Regions from separate parts of the Homo sapiens genome. Here region 2 is linked to region 1. Evidence: fine-mapped expression QTL. Tissue or cell type: whole blood. Region 1 holds a variant in brackets; the other region holds the start of a gene. All regions are shown on one strand. Distances are between the middles of the regions.

The links. PIP is the estimated chance that this variant, and not a neighbour inherited with it, causes the effect.
Region 2: SH3PXD2A starts here. The variant in region 1 is fine-mapped to the expression of SH3PXD2A in whole blood (INTERVAL, PIP above 0.99).

The regions. Positions count from the first base shown.
Region 1 is chr10:103,675,528-103,683,630 of GRCh38, reverse strand. The region is part of intron 6 of SH3PXD2A (SH3 and PX domains 2A); the gene reads left to right. Among named protein-coding and RNA genes, the nearest start is that of SH3PXD2A-AS1, 67 kb to the left of the region's middle. RefSeq lists enhancers at 870-1,650, 5,014-5,183, 5,194-5,253. The variant A/G (reference allele first, on the strand shown) is at 3,236.
Region 2 is chr10:103,851,221-103,859,323 of GRCh38, reverse strand. It overlaps SH3PXD2A (SH3 and PX domains 2A), which reads left to right and starts at 3,748. Exons shown (of 15, transcript NM_001394015.1): 1 at 3,748-4,129. The coding sequence starts at 4,058.

The DNA of each region.
Region 1 (8,103 bases):
GAGTGCAGTGGTGCGATCAGGGCTCACTGTGGCCTTAAATTCCTGGGCTCAAGCGATCTTCCCACCTCATCCTCCCAAGTAGGTGGAACCACTGGTGTGCCACCATGCCTGGCTTATTTATTTATGTAGGAGACAGTCTTGCTCTGTCACCCAGGCTAGAGTGCAGTAGCCCAATCTCGATTTACTGCAACCTCCGCTTCTCAGCTCTCGTGCCTCAGCCTCCCAAGTAGCTGGGACTACAGGCACCCGCCACCATGCCTGGCTAATTTTTTTGTATTTTAGTAGAGATGGGGTTTCTCTGTGTTGCCCAGGGTCGTCTTGAACTCCTGAGCTCAGGCAGTCCACCCGCCTCAGCCTCCCAGAATGCTAGGATTACAGGTGTGAGCCACCATTTCTAGCCTTTATTTTTTATTACTGATTTGTTTATTTATTTGGTAGAAACAGGGTCTCGCTTTGTTGCCCAGGCTGGTGTTGAATTCCAGGCCTCAAGTGATCCTCCTGCCTCAGCCTCCTAAAGTGTTGGGATTACAGACGTGAGCCACCACACCTGGCCTGGCATGAGCTTGAAAAGTCTGAGGGAAGGAGAGGGGCCCATCATCCCGGCAGGAGCGAGGGTAGAGCAGGAGATGAGTCTGGAAAGGAAGTCATGGAGAGTGTATCATAAGCAAGACCTTTTAAAGCAATTTCCGAGGCGTTCTTGTCCTCCTGAGCTACCCATCCTCAGTGAGAAAGGCCCAGGCTACTTAGAGAATGTGGCAAAGATCTTCCTGCCACCCTCCAATGGCCCATTTCAAAAGTGAGCGTGTCTTTTGAAGGCGTCAGCTTCTGGCACATCTTACCCAGGCTCGTGGTTTGTTTTGTTTTTTTTTTTTTTGAGACGGAATCTGGCTCTGTTGCCCAGGCCGGAGTGCAATGGCACGATCTCGGCTCACTGCAACCTCTGCCTCCCAGGTTCAAGCAATTCTCCTGCCTCCGCCTCCTGAATAGCTGGGATTACAGATGCATGCCACCATGCCTGGCTAATTTTTTGTATTTTTAGTAGAGATGGGATTTCACCATGTTGGCCAAGCTGGTCTTGAACTCCTGACCTTGTGATCCACCCTCTTCGGCCTCTCAAAGTGCTGCGATTACAGGCATGAGCCACCGCAGCCAGCCTCTGGGCTGGTGTTTTTAAACAGTTTTTATTTGCATGGCTCTGGGTCCTCAGCCTGATTTTACCCTTGGAGTTCAAAGCCATCTAATTGGAAATGAAAGGAGCCTGATTGATTTGGCAACTCTGCGGCCAGCCCACGTGGCGGTGATGCGATGGAGAAAGTGAGTGCTGCTCACGTGTGTGTCTGCGCCACGCTCCCTGGCTCGAGGTGGCTGAGCCCCACTGCCCAATTGGCCTGGACACACAGAGCAAGGCGGAGCGGGGAGGGGGCAGGGGCGTGGCAAGCGCTCCCCGGATCCTGGAATCCCCAGAAGGAGGCAGCTAGTTGGAAGCCTCAATTCCCTCAGCCCTGCTTGCACAGCTGCCTCTGCCCCCTCACTCCTATCACCCAGTTTCTCCTGCTAGGAAAATAGGAAGTTGGTCCAAAAGGGAACTGCATGGGCAAAAGTGAACTGCAGAATCTTGAGTCTGCTCATTGAAATACAGATTCCCAGGGCCTGCCCAGACCTACTGAATCAGCGTGTCTGGAGTGACGCCCAGGTATCTGCATTTTTTCATTTTCTTAAGAGACAGGGTTTCACCATATTGCCCAGGCTGGTCTCAAACTCCCAAGCTCCTCAAGCAGTCCACCCACCTCGGCCTCCCAAAGTGCTGGATTATAGATATGAGCCACCGCATCTGGCCGATCTGCATTTTGTGTGTGTGCGCGCGCGCGCGCGGGCGCGTGTGTGTGTGTGATGGAGTCTCACTCTGTCACCCAGGCTGGAGTGTGGTAGTGCGATCTTGGCTCACTGCAACCTCTGCCTCTTGGGTTCAAGTGATTCTCCCGCCTCAGCCTCCTGAGTAGCTGGGACTACAGGTACCCTCCACAACACCTGGCTAATTTTTGTATTTTTAGTAGAGACAGGGTTACACCATGTTGGCCAGGCAGATCCTCCTGCCTTGGCCCCCCAGAGTGCTGGGATTATAGGCGTGAGCCACTGCACCCAGCCAATCTGCATTTTTGACAGGCTTCCCAGGGCTTCTGAAATCAAGCTAGGGTTGCGTCTTTGATGGGTCATCCATGTGGGTTGATGGCCATGTTCAGGGTAGACAGGCAGCAAGATGGCAGGGGGATTGGCATCCCCAAGATGAATGGTGCCTGGATGATGCCTGGATGGGACTGCTCCTTGAAGAACATTCAGTTGTCTCCTGAGATGGGAGGGTGGGCTACGGGGGCAGGAATGGAGGACAGGACTCCCAAGTCTCTTACCCCTGAAACACAGCCCAGCATTTGGAGTCTTGGAGAATGGCTATCTGAGGGGCCTACCCAGCCCTGACCTGATGAGAGACACCATCTGCCTTTCATTTCCAGAAGGTTTTGTTGCTGGGGGAGGAAATACCCAAATTGTGGTCCAGCAAAGAAATGTTTCCCACCGTGGCCCACGGCCAGAAAGTCACTGGTTCCTCACTTCAGCGTTTGGTTTATAGACACGTGACAGAAGAGGCAACCTTTCCAGTGATGACAAAGCCGGCGGAAAAACAAAGACATGGGGGAAATGTGCATTACTTATTGTTTTAGCACCTTTTTCTAATCTAAAGTTACTTTTAGAAACAGAAAAGTGGTGTGTGTAACTTAGTCGGCACGTGGCATTTTTAGAATTGGTCTGTTTCGAAGTGTGAAAGAAAAAAATATTTTTTTCCTGAGTTTCCATAAAACTTAGAAGTTTACAGGAAAATCATGCTTTTCCCTGACTCTCTTCTTTCTGCCTTGCCCCCTGGATTTCATCATTGCCATGTGTGGCCCAAGCAGCCAGCTTGAAAATGTATTTTGTTATTTATTGTTAGAATAAAGTCTTGCACCAAGACAACTGGGTCATGTTAGAAAGTCCCTTTGCTTCCTTGTGCTCAGAAACAGAGTTTGCTGGGTGTGGTGGTTCACGCCTGTAATCCCAGCACTTTGGGAACCTGAGGTGGGAGGATCACTTGAGCCCAGGAGCTTGAGACCAGCCTGGGCAACCTAGTGAGACCCCTTCTCTACAAAAATAAAAAATTAGTCCAGTGTGGTGGCACACACCTGTGGTTTCAGCTACTCGGGAGGGC[A/G]AAGAAGGATTGTTGAGCCCAGGAGGTTAAAGCTGCAGTGAATGGTGATCGCACCACTGCACTCCAGCCTGGGCAATAGAGCAAGACCCTATCTCAAAATAAAACATAAAGAAGGCAGGCCGGGTGTGGTAGCTCACGCCTGTAATCCCAGCACTTTGGGAGGCCGAGTTGGGCGGATTACTTGAGGTCAGGAGTTTGAGACCAGCCTGGCCAACATGGTGAAACCCTGTCTCTACAAAAATACAAAAATTAGCTTGGTGTCGTGGTGGGCGCCTGTAATCCCAGTTACTCAGGAGGCTGAGGCAGGAGAATCACTTGAACCGGGGAGGCAGAGGTTGCAGTGAGCAGAGATGGCGCCATTGCACTCCAGCCTGGGTGACAGAGCGAGACTCTATCTCAAAAAATAAATAAATAAATAAAATAAAAGAGAAGGCAGAGCTGGCCATCTCTTCACCATCCTCCCCCTTGTCACTGCTTCTGGATCCCTGTGAGTAAGGGTGTCCTCAGCTCAGCCCTGGAGCACCTTAGGCTCTTTGAGTGTTGGAAGAGGATCAGGTCTGGGTACATAACTTCCCAGCTGGAGGGTCAGATCCTTGCTATGCTAAGCAGTGATGACAGGCTGGTGACAACAGACCAAACTAAGACTGTCTTTGTATGTTGGCAATGGCCCCCCCAGGGGGACCTTGCAAATATGCAGATTTTAACATCCCTCATTTCAGATCTGTCAGGGTGGGACAAGTTCTTCTGGCCTGTGAGCTCCTGCCATACACAGTCCTGGAGCCTGCTGGCTCTGAGTTGCTCATTTGCATTTGGCCACAGGGTTCTGGTCAGGGGAACTCCCCTCTCCCCCACCCTTCCTCCATGACTTGGCTCGCTCCTTCTGCTCCAAGCCCATGGCTCAGTGGACACTAGGCAGCTGTCTCCTGGGGCGCAGGGAGGGTACCCTTGAAGGCTAGTGGATAGGAAGCAAGTTTCTGAATGGACACTGGTACTAGGTCTTCCTTCTGGGATGAGGTGGCTCCTTCCAGACTAAAGCTGGCTTTTCTGGCTCTGGCTGTGCCTGCCTTCTAGGTTTGTCTACTGCACATCTGACAGGTCTTGTGATGGAACCTCAGTGATACCAAGATGGAGACAATGAGGTCCTTGTCCTCAGAGGACTCCTGGCCAGATGGGGGAGGTGGGCAAGGAAACAGCAGTTTTAAAACAGTGTCACAAGTGCTGCACGGGGCTGGGGCCACGCCATGTAGGGGTCTCTGAGCAAGGCACACAGACCTGCATGGCTGCTGAGCCTAATTTACTGAGCTTTCTAAATGGGTCAGCTGGGTGAAGAGGACAGTACCTGTGCAGAGGACATCTGTTCAGTGGTAGGAGCCACTGTCCCCATGTGCCACGTCTTCCATGTGGGGCATCTCTTTCATAGCCCTGGAGCACCTACTGTGTGGTTCTGTTTCAGAGGAGCTATTGCAGATTGCTACTTGTTCAATAAAATTATTGAAGTTTAAAATGTTCTAATTAATATGTGTTGGCCCAGGAGCCACCTCCCACCTTTTCCTTATTGTTAGGAAGAGCCCAGCCGTTTCCTGGGAGACAAAGGAGGCCATGAATCTTGACTCCTTGTGATTCCAGGATCACTGTCCTGCAGCCAGGTTCCTGACACTAGGAGATGCACATGAAATATCCTCCATCAGGGAAGGAATCTCCCTCCAGTGAGAACTCCCGAGAGGCTGATGATTGACCAGGATTGACAGGACAGGGAAAGAGCAGCCCTTTCACATCCCAGGTCAAGACCAGTGAGGCCCAGAGAAGTGTCCCAACCTTCCCACGCTGGGAAAGGCAACCAGGGCCAGGGCTGAGCACTGAGCACCAGGCCTCCTTCCTGGCTTCTCCCCTCTCTGGAAGCTTAGCATTAGACAGAGCCGCCGAGCTGTGGTGCTGAAGGGTTAACTCGGGGCTCCCCAGAGAGCCGCACACTCCCGACCCTCTCATCTTCCAGGCCCTCTCAGCTGCAGCCTTCTGGGCATAGCTGGGTCACGTGAGAGCCAGATGTGGGGATTTCCCAAGCAGTGGTGTGTGCGTGCGCACTGCGTGCATGCACAGCTCTGTTTACGTGGCATCTCAGCGCTCAGGGGATTGGTCTGGACCCACGCAGAGGAGGGGAGGGATGGGGTAAGGAAAGGCTCAGGGGCTCCCAGCAAACACCATGGGAGGCTGCACCAAGCCCTGCTCCCCCCAGACATTACACATGAACGGGTCGTTCCTGCTCCGGCTCCTGTTTCCTGTAGCGTCCATCCTGCCAGAGACTGTACTGCTTAGGGGTAATTTTTCTAAAAATCTCTTTGAAGGGCATTAAAGCAGATGCTGGGAGCCAACGCCCTTCAGGGTGTTCTGCAGGCTCGGAGGCCTGCACGGGAGCCACTGTGCCCAGCACAAGCCAGGCCTGTATGCCTGTATGTGGTTCCGGAGGCCAAGCCTGGACTAGAGAGGGCAGAGCCGTGGGTATCAAGAGGGTCCTGGGGCAGTGGGGTAGCCGGGCCTCAGTTTTCCATGCACCCTTGGGCTTGAGAGCAGTGAGTATTCATCTTTCCATCAGCCACTGAGGGTTAATTGGGCACCTCCTGCATTCAAGGTGTTGTGGGGTGCTGACAGGGATAAGGCCTTGAAGGAACTAAAGGTCTGATTGAAGAGACTCATAACAAATCTTTAATAAGCACCTACTATGCGCTATGCGCTTGCTAGGACTATAGCCCTAACCAGACGTTTGGAGCCAGTGGGAACAGTCAGTGAACAAAGATCCTGCCCAGGGCATGATAAGGGAGACAGAAAACCTTGAAAAGTGGGTGTCCTCAACCTCAGTCCAGGAATGAATTCTCCTCCTACCCCTGACCCCCCATCCCCACCCCTGTCTTGCACCAGTGGATGGCAGCGTCCAGCCAGATGTCCCTGAGGCTCCGTGAGCCCTACCCCAAAGATGGGTCCAGTTATACCTTCAAGGCCTCCAGGACTCAGCCCTGCCGTCTCCTCCCTCAGACCTTCCGGGACCCAGCCTGTCTCCCCAAACCTACATGACTCCTGAAGCAGACAGGAATGCTGGGGACGGTGTCTGTGGTTGTGTGTCTGATGCTTTGAGACAGAGGGTGGAGAGTCAGATGGTCTCAACCAGGGGCCGTTGATGCTCCCGAAATAGTTGGCGGTTGATTCATTGATAATCCGATAGCAAGAGTCCAGTCTGGAGAGAAGGAGACATTCCACATTTTGTTGTCCGGGGAGGGGAATGTCTGTCCTGAGTCCGTTGCTATTGACTCCATCACTCACTCGCGGCTCTCAGGGAGACTGAGCCAGGGAGGAGGCGGATTGCAAGACTCGGGGCTGGAGACCAGCGACTGCTGACTTCATCCCACTGCCCAGCCTCTCTGCTGCTCCTTCTCTGTGTGAACGCAAATACTGGCTTTGGCTCGGGCTTCTGGGGGAGCTGGAGGGTGGGGGAATTGGAGGGAGGATCTCCCAGTAAGTGAGGGAGGACCACCAAGGCAGGCCACCCCAGGGAGGGAGGTGGCTGGGATCCTGGAACTCAGAACAAACTTGAGTTTGTCTCTTCTCTGCACACAAATGCCCTGGGGTGGGGAGAGGTGAGAACCTGAGAACTGAGGGGGAGGCCGCAACCCAAGGGGCTGCCATGGGTTGGGCAGCAGCTGCTGGGATCAGAGAGGCTCTGAACCTGCCAGCCTCCCTGGCCAGCACCCCTCTGTCCACCCACGGCACCTCTCACTAACCCAGCACCTATCTTTAACCAGGAAGCTTCCGGTCTTCTCAGCAGGGTGGAGGGAGGTGACAGAACTACCTGCTACTCCCTGCCAGGGCAGCCCCTTCTAGGCAGCCTCAGTGCTCCTAGGGCATCCTTGGCTTCTCCGTCCACACCCACTTAGGCTGGGCTGACCCTTCTGGCCCCAGGCTTGGCCTAGGCAGGCACCCTTGGACTTAGTCCCTAAGGGGCTGTGGAGGGTCTCCAGGCCCAGCCCCCACTGCACCCCATCCCCCGCCTGAGCAGGGAAACTGCTCCTTGACTGCATAACCCAGGGCCAGAGGGTCAATAGTGCATTCCTACCCTGGGTTGGGCTGCCCCCACACGTGTTCTGGATTCCAGGGAATGAGGCAAGTCCTTTCTTGCTGCATTTACGAAAAGCAGCAGAAATAAAGAAAGCCTTGGCCAGTGGCCAGGGAGGATCAGAAAATGACATCCCCCATGAGGACCCTTTGTTCCCAATTCCTGGCCAGCCTGCCTGGGCTTAAGTCTGATGCCATCACTTCTTGCTGTAGGGCCTTGGGAAAGAACCTTAACTTTTCTTTTTTTTTTCCCCCGAGACGGAGTTTCGCTCTTGTTGCCCAGGCTGGAGTGCAATGGCGCGATCTCGGCTCACTGCAACCTCCGCCTCCCGGATTCAAGCAATTCTCCTGCCTCAGCCGCCCAAGTAGCTGAGATTACAGGCATGCACCACTATGCCTGGCTAATTTTATATTTAGTAGAGATGGGGTTTAACATGTTGGACAGGCTGGTCTCGAACTCCTGACCTCAGATGATCCACCCACCTCAGCCTCCCAAAGTGCTAAGGTTACAGGCGTGAGCCACCGCACAAGGCCAGAGCCTTAACTTTTCTGTGCCTCACTTTCCTCATCTGTAAATTACAGACTGTTGTGAAGATTAAACAAGAAAATGCTCATAAATGTTTAGCACAGCACCTAGCATGAATGTTAAGTAAGTGGAAACTGGTATAATTATTCTAGCTCCAGCCCTACGACTTATTTGCTGTGTGATCTTAGGCAAGTCTCTTCTCCTCTCTGGTTCTGAGACCCTAAATAGTCCTTCCAGCCTG
Region 2 (8,103 bases), 180 kb before region 1:
TAAGTTATCCACCACTGTACAGCATGGAAAGGGCCAGAAAGAGCACCAGAGACCCAGACGTGGGAAAGAACTTCAAGGTCACAGGCTGGTTTGTGGTTAAGCCAGGAGTAGAACCCAGGTTGGGTAATTCCTGCTCTGAGACTCCAATTCTTCTTCTTCTTAGGCATTACTTAGCCCCAGCATTATCTACAAATATCTGCTGAGATCCCAGTAATTTAAAAAGACAACCATTTATTGAGGGCCTGGCATGTATAAAGCTCTGCGCTGGGTGGGCAGGTGTGTGTGGCAGGTGACAGAGGTGCTGGATGATGGGGGTGGGGAGGGAAAGGGTGGTGTCCATGTCTAAGTTCATGGTCCTCAAGGCCTTCAAAGGCTTCTTACTGGTTTAGAAGGCACAACCTAAAGCACAGGAAAGTTAAATAACAATAAAAGATATAAATAAGGTTCAATACAGTGAAGGCTGAGCTGTCATAGGGTGATGTATGATTAGTAAACAAATGTATGATTAGCAATTGTCATTCGATTTCTGAAGAGGAAGAGAAGGTTCTCTTGTGCTTTCATATAGCCCACTGTGGTTTCCAGTACTTTCCTGCATGTTGTCTTCTTTGGGGGTGGTCACAAAGACCCTACATGGGAGAGGAGGTAGGGCGGGTTCTGCTTTAGGGGAGCTGATGGAATTTGCACGTACACAGAGGACCATGGAGACACACACGGCCTCTGCTCTAGAGGATTGTACAGTCCTCTTTATTGGGAAGTCCAGGCATCACGAGTTCATATGCTTGTGTGAATGGAGAACTGGAACCAGGGACTCCAGGGTTTGAGTGAATGCAACATTCTAGACCTGCAGGTGTGCTAAGTGTGCCCTTTAAACAAGCTCTTCTTGCCCTAGTATAGGCACATAAATGTGGAGGGGAAAGACAGCGGGCTTTGGACTAACTGGCTATGTGGCATCAAGCAACTTGCTTAGTTTTTCTTGGCCTTGGTTTCTTCCTCTGTAAAATAAGAGAAATAAATAACCTCTCTTGTCCCTTCTAGTTGGAAAGTTCTTTGATTCTAAGCATTCTACAATTACCTGTTTTCGAAAATCAGATTTTCAGGTATCAGTTTGCATCTTTATGTTGGCTTCTCTTTCCCTTACTTATCCTAAACTTAAAAAAAAATTTGCAATTATATTTTGTCATTTTTAACTCACACAATGTCCTTAGGTTGGAGTCATCTCCAGTTCATGGGCGGAGGTGGCAAAATAGGGGTTTCTCTAATCCTTTCTAGCACTAGCTCTTTGAGCAGATGTTTTCAACACAGGCCATCCTATATACCTACTGTGTGCCACGCATAGTTGGGGTATTTAATGAATGATGCACAGTCCTTGTTTCCAAGGAAACTTCCCCCAGTCTCTGTCATTTTTGGGGGATTGCCAGGCACATGTGAGGCATTCAATAAATGTGTATTGAACAGAAAGGAATTCCCAAGGCACTGTGGGAAATAAATCTGCATGAGGTTGAAATGTACCCAGAGAAGAGATAGCCTGCACCATTTCATACTTAAATCCCCTTGGACATACGGCCCCAGTACAGAAAAGACATTTTTCTCCCACAGGTAGAAATAACTTCTGCCCAGATCTTGGCACCATGGGGTTGAGTGGGGAGCACTCAGTTGCTCCCTCCAATAAAGGTAATTACGGAACAAAGGGGGAAGTTGGGAGTATGCTCAAGTCAGGCTTAAAGGCCTGAATTTATAAAATGTCAAGTTGCAGGGAGTCTTTTAGGCAGGAGAAAGGCTACCACTTTGTAGGCCGCTAGGAAGTGGGGAAGAACTGGGCCCTCTCTCCTACAAATTTATTGTGCTTGGTGTGTTCATTGTGGATCTGGGTCCGAAAGAAGGGTAATAAGGAAACCACTAGTGCTGTTTTAGATGAGCTGACTGCTTTGATTCACAAGGGGACCCAAATCAAACTAAACCCCCTCCTCTTCTTCCCCCCACAACAGCTAAACACCAGCTCCCCTCGCTGGTGGCTTCTCAGGTTTTATTAGCACTTCCAGAAGACTTTGCCATCCACAGAAGACGAGTTATCCGAGAGCCATGATGAATCTCTTCCTCACAAACTCACAGGCTGTCTTGATCCATCATCAGAGAGGACCTGGAGCTGGCCAGCACCCTCCCAAGTTCGGGAGCTCAATATGGAGGGCCCGTTCCAGGTCTACCTCTCATCCCTTCAGGGAATAATCCTTGCTCATGGAGGTAGTGCCCTGTCCTCCCATTTTCCCATCAGCTGAGCAACATTACCAGGTGCACCTTCCCCCAGGACTCCTGCTCCAACATTCACAAAGGTTTTCTGTCATCTTCTCTGACCAAGAAGCTCTGGCCTGGTGCCAAGATCTCTCACAGTCTGAGCCCCCTAGGCCCATCCATCTTTTTTTTTCTTTGTCCCGTGCCATCGTTTGGTGTCCTAGCGCCCTTCCCCAGGAAGGTTGGAGGAATAGTGGGTTACTCTGTATGGAGCAAATATGTGAATAAATAAAGCCTTAGATCTGTGCCTGGGTTCTGACAGTCTAGAGAACGCGCAGAAGAAAGTATTAATGCAATTAGGTCACAAAATTATTTGTCCTCTTTTCAGATGTTTCACATTGGTCCACAGTCACAAAGCTTTATTGTGATTGTGTAACAACTGGAGTAGTTGTGAAAACACTACCCTTTAAATGTTTGAAAGCAGAATGGGAAAAAAATGTTGAACTAGAAGGGGGGAAGCTACATTGAATTAAGTAGTAACTGTGCTCCAAGTCCAGGGACCACGGACAAGTGGCTTGGAAAGTGGGTTTTCCAGACTAGAGGGAGGGGTGAGAATGCCAGAGCCTGGGGCTCACGGTGAGCTGGCCTCCAACCGGGTGGGTTTTCCCACCATTGTATGCTCCTTTCCCTGTCGCCAGCTTGGGGAGGGTCCCCAGGGGAGCCCTGGGCTTAAGGCAGTGGTGTTATGCAGAGTCTGTAACGTTGTCATTGGTAAATGATGCACAGGGTAGTTACACAAGCCCAGATCGATGGACGACTCAGGCAACGAATCGATCACTTTTCCGGGGAGAATTCACCCTTTATGACCTGCAGAGGGTCAGGTGGTTCGTCCAAAGAGGCTCTGGCTTGAAGGATTTAAAGCTGGCCTTTTCCCCATTCCCATCTCCTCCTCGGGGGCCTGGGCAGTAACAGCCGGGTAATAAACTACTTCTCATTAAAGAGATCTGGGGGTGGAAGTTGTAGGGGGACATAAAAGTGGGGACAAAAAGGCACAAATCCGCTCCGAGGCGGAAAGCCAGGATGGGGGCGCGCGGGGCTCACTTTCCCCGCTCCCTCTCCCCCCGAAGCCACCCTGAGTTTTTGTGCCTAGCGAACTAGCCCGGTGCTGCGCCAGGCCGCTGGCTGCGCGCTGGGCTCGGGTGGGGGCTCGTCGGCCCGCCCCTGCCACTGGGGCCGGGCTGCAGCCCCCTCCCCGTCGCCCCGAGCCCCTCCCCCGGCCCGGAGCCCCTCCCCGCGCGCTTCCCCTCTCTCCCCTCCCTCCCTTCCCTTCCCTGCCTGCCAGGCCCTGCCTCCGCCTCCTGCGCCCACAGCCTCCGCCAGCGCCGATCCCCCCGGAGCCCGAGCCGGAGAGCGGCGAAGGGGAGCCGCCGGCCCCTCCCCAGGACGCTGACAGCAGGCTCCGGGGCCCCCGCCCCGTCCCCTCGCCGACGGGACACACCCCCGCCCCTCCTCTGCTCCGCCAGTTCCCGCCGGACCCACCGGGCGGCGGAGAGAGCGAGCGGGCGAGCGCAGCGCGGCGGCCGCGCGGGAGTGAAGGGGCGCGCGGCAGGCCGGCGGGGAGTCCCCCGGGGCGCACGGAGCCCGCGCGCCCTCCGGGACCCTCCCCCGTCCCTGGGCCGGACCTGTGGGCGCCGGGAGTCCGGGCAGCGTTCGGCGCGCCGGGCCGGGGTGGCGGGCGGCCCCGGGACCCCGGCAGCTGGAGAAGGAGCCGGAGCCCGGCCGGGATGAGAAGGTGACGCCGCCGGGGGCGCCACTCGCTTTGTGGGGGAAGATGCTCGCCTACTGCGTGCAGGATGCCACCGTGGTGGACGTGGAGAAGCGGAGGAACCCCTCCAAGCACTACGTGAGTACAGCCCCCGCCGACCCTGCTGGGGGTGGCCCGAGGTCCCGGGAGGGCCCCGGATGGCCCCTTGCCCCTCCCAGCTGTGAGGTCGCGAAGCTAAGCGCCCACTGGGCAGCCAGCAGCCGTGGAGTTTCTTCGCAGGGCTGTGATCTCCAGGGAAGCCTCTTCTGTCCTTCCTCCTTCGCACCCCCGCCCCCCCGGTTTCTTTTTTTGGCATTGGAATTGGCAAGTGGCTGCCCTTGTCTGTTACAACGGTGAAGTCATCTGTCCGCCTTTGATGGATGGTGGGGGGAGCTTTCGTCAACCCCTCACAGAGCAGCCCCGTCGGGAAAGCGCATCTCCTCGGCCCTCCCCAGGGGCCCTGGGCGCTCACGCTCACACAGCCCGAGATGCTTTCAGAGCTCGCCCTGGAGAAGGAAGCCTCGCGCCCTGCCTCCCACGCCAGCTCTGTCTCTGCCTTCCTAGGCCTGGGGCTGGGGGCAGAAGGAAGCCGCCGCCCCCTTGCCCAACCTCCACCCTCCGCGCTAAGCTTTGATTTCCCTCATAAAGCCATTGTGTCCGTCGGTGTGAGGAGAATTGTGGCTTTTCCTTTTATCCCTCCTCTGGACGTGACCCTTAACCGGGTTCATTTCCTCTTAAGTGATGCTCCATCTCCAGACACGAGGAGGCGAATGTTTGCTGTGGTCTCCGAGGAACCGCCCCTCCCCCTTCCTCCCCCAAACTTTAATGAGAAGGGGTTAAGGTTGACTGGGGCAGCTCCAGAGCCTATGTGACAGTTCCCCTTTCATCTCAGCCGGTCCTGTCTTCCCATCCCTCACACCTTAGGAAGTAAACACGGTGTCCTTGACCCCTCTGAGCGTCTGTGCTCCTGTACTTGAGATAGAAGAGACCCAAGCACAGAGGACTGCATGTTATTTGCAAATTGGGTATTTAGAGGAGCAGTTCCAGTGCTCAAAGCATTAATCTTAACAGTTAAAACAGGCGCTGGTTGCTGCCCTGGATTGTACATTGATCTCTGAAGTGCCTTTTCTTCCACTGTTGCAAAGGGACTGGGGTTTGTGGCAATGTCAGCCTCGGGCTACTCTTTTTGCCTTTGTCACCAGTGTAGCTCTGAACTTTGAGTTTCTTTACAGCTGAGCAAATGCGGCTGGGCTCATATGGGGAGGAGGTAAATGTGGAGGCAGGTTGACTAGGCAGGGAGGTGGGTGCCTGTCGGGTCCAGTCCCTGACACCCTTAGAGAGTTGTTTCTTTTGTGTCATCTGGTCCAGCAAGCATTTTCTGCTGCTGTTACAAGAAAGCTCTTTTTGGAGGGCTTGGGTCACCAGGTGGTCAACCTGCTCTGTGGACAGATGTCCCTTTGTATATCCCAGGGTTTATTTTTCTCAAATGTTGCAGGCTAAGTTTTAAGGGTTCTCATTTGTAGTCCTCAGCTGAGCTTGGCACTGCATTCAACAGATGGCACTCTGCTCTGAGACCCAGGCAGGTGCGTTTCCAACTCTGGATTTTAAATGAAACATCACATTTCAGCTCCCACCGATGGTGCCCAAGGTTGCAGATGCAGGACACACTGGTAACAAACTAGAACCGGGGCCCACTGCAGACAGGATTGAAAGGCAAGATTGCGTGCTGGGGTTCTGAAGTTAGACGGTCTTGCTCAAAGCCTGGCATGCAGCCAGTAACTAGCTGTGCCACCTTGGCAAGTTATTTAAACCTCCCCCAGCCTCAGTTTACTCAATTTCAAGTAAGGATAATAATAGTATGTACTTGTTGGGAGAATTAAATGAGATCATCTATGTAAAGCACTTAGCCCAGTTCCTGGCACGCAGTAAGCTCTTATTAAATGGTAGCTTATTATTGGTGAGATTCTGACTAAGAAAGTATTTTTGAAAAGCAGCTATTAATGGTCTGGCAAAAAGGAAGAAAGATTTTGGGTTTTAAGATTGATAATAACTTGTTCTATGTGAAAAACACAAAAGAAGTCCTGTCCAGTTCCCTCGAAATGATCATTTCCTTCCTTTTTACAGACAAAGTGTTTCCCGGGACATCTCCGCTTCCCGAGTAAGAATCGATGACATTATGTTTGGGGGGGCAGGGAGTGATGTCACTGAACAGATGGGGCCATGCAGAGTTCTGAACTAGAGTTCTGGAAAACACTGAGAGGAGAAAGTGTTACATGTTGTGGAATTGTGGAACGGGCAGAGACCCGAAGACTCATCTGGCTCAACTCCTTCATTTTACAGATGAGGAAATGGAGAGCCAGATTGGGTAAAGTAACTTGCAACACAGCTGCTCACAGCTGGGTTTTTTTCATTGCATGTACCCTAAGTCCAGTTGGGTTTGGCTAAGAGGACAAATAACTGGTGGTCAAAAAGTTTCTACCCATTTGGGGCATTGTATATATTAATACATAACATAAGCATATCCAATAATTGAAAGGGGGAAAGAAAGCAATAGAAAGGGCCTGGTGGGACAGACAGGGGCAGGAGGAGCGGGTTTGGGGAGGCTGCAGCCTCTTCCTCTCCTGGCCCTTGCACGGTGAATACCACACACCAAAAGCTCAAGTGTTGTGAGTAAGGCCCTCTGGTGTGGTCAGCTGGCAGGACGTGCTGCACCCATTGCCTGTGTTCTGGAAACCCTCTACACTGGAGGAGCAAGCCTCCTTCCAGCCTTTCCTCTGCTGATGGTGAATTCTGAGTCTGTGGTTTGGTAAATTGCAGAGCAGAGAGGTTTTACGGGATGTGCGTGTTAGCCAGAGCTAGCCGATGAGAGGCCTGGGGCCCACGCAGGAGGAGCTCTGCTGGCTCCAGAGTGCTGGGAACACACTGCAAAGGTTCTCTCAGGACATTCTGCAAAGGGTTTGCTCATCCCCACGGGGAGGGGGAGCTGCCTGAACACGAAGGGTCCTGTGCTTTCGGTCAGTTCATGAAGGCACGCAAGTAGCTTCCATCATGGGGATGGCACTCAGCCCTGGCTTCCTTCTTCTCTGCCAGGCCCCTGCTTGGGGTGGGGTTGAGAAGGGCAGGCAGCTGCTACTAAGGTCAGGCTCCCTGGCATGAAGCTAGGCTCCTTTCCTGGCTTTCTGAGCTGTGCCTGGGGAGACCCTAGGTAAACTGGCTTTGGCCTCTGACCGCTTGTCTTGAAAATGGTCCTGATGATGCTGGATGCAGAATGCAGATTCCTTCGTTTGAAAGTTTTTCAGTAAAGATTTGAATTCAGGTCCACCGGGTTCTTTGTGCTCACAGGCAGGTATAGGTATATATCAATTCATGTGGTAGAGAAAAGCTCGTTTATCTAAAACAAACAAGAAATTGTATCTATTTGGATTTGGGAGGTATTGCACTTTCACAGTTGTTTTATTTCCTGATTGTTTATTTCAGACAAATACCAATCATGAATGTTCTGATCCTCTGCAGGACTCTTTGGGGAATGCAAATAATAGCCAGTTTAGCAGTTACCATCGATGGTGAAACATACTTAACACTCGTGTTTTCGTGTGATTCCTGCAGGTCATTGAATGTACCCTAATGTGGGGTAGGTTTTTGGATTCTGTTTTACAGATGAATTAACTGCAACTTGGAGCAATTCACCAACTTGCTTAGGGTCTCGCAGCTGGCACAGGGCAGAGCTAGGGCAATGCAGGTCAGGTTAGCTCCAAAGGAGGATGTGGATATAAGGTGGGGCCCTTCTCTTCAATTAGAATCCGGGCAGGAAGGCCAGGCTCAGCCCTGTTCCATGGTGACAGAGCAGTACAGGGTTGTCTTTAGGACTGCCTCACTGTAGAGACATCTACCATGTGCCCTGCAGGTGAGTTCATGGTGGGCAACGCAGGCGGGTCACTGTGAGGCAGGAGGAGTAGAGCAACTTCAGGCTGGTATCTGGTCCCCAGTAATGCTTAGGGTAATAAATTAAGGGTTGACCTTGTGGACATAATATATTCTTCCTCTGTTTAGATCATCCCAGATTTTATTCTTGG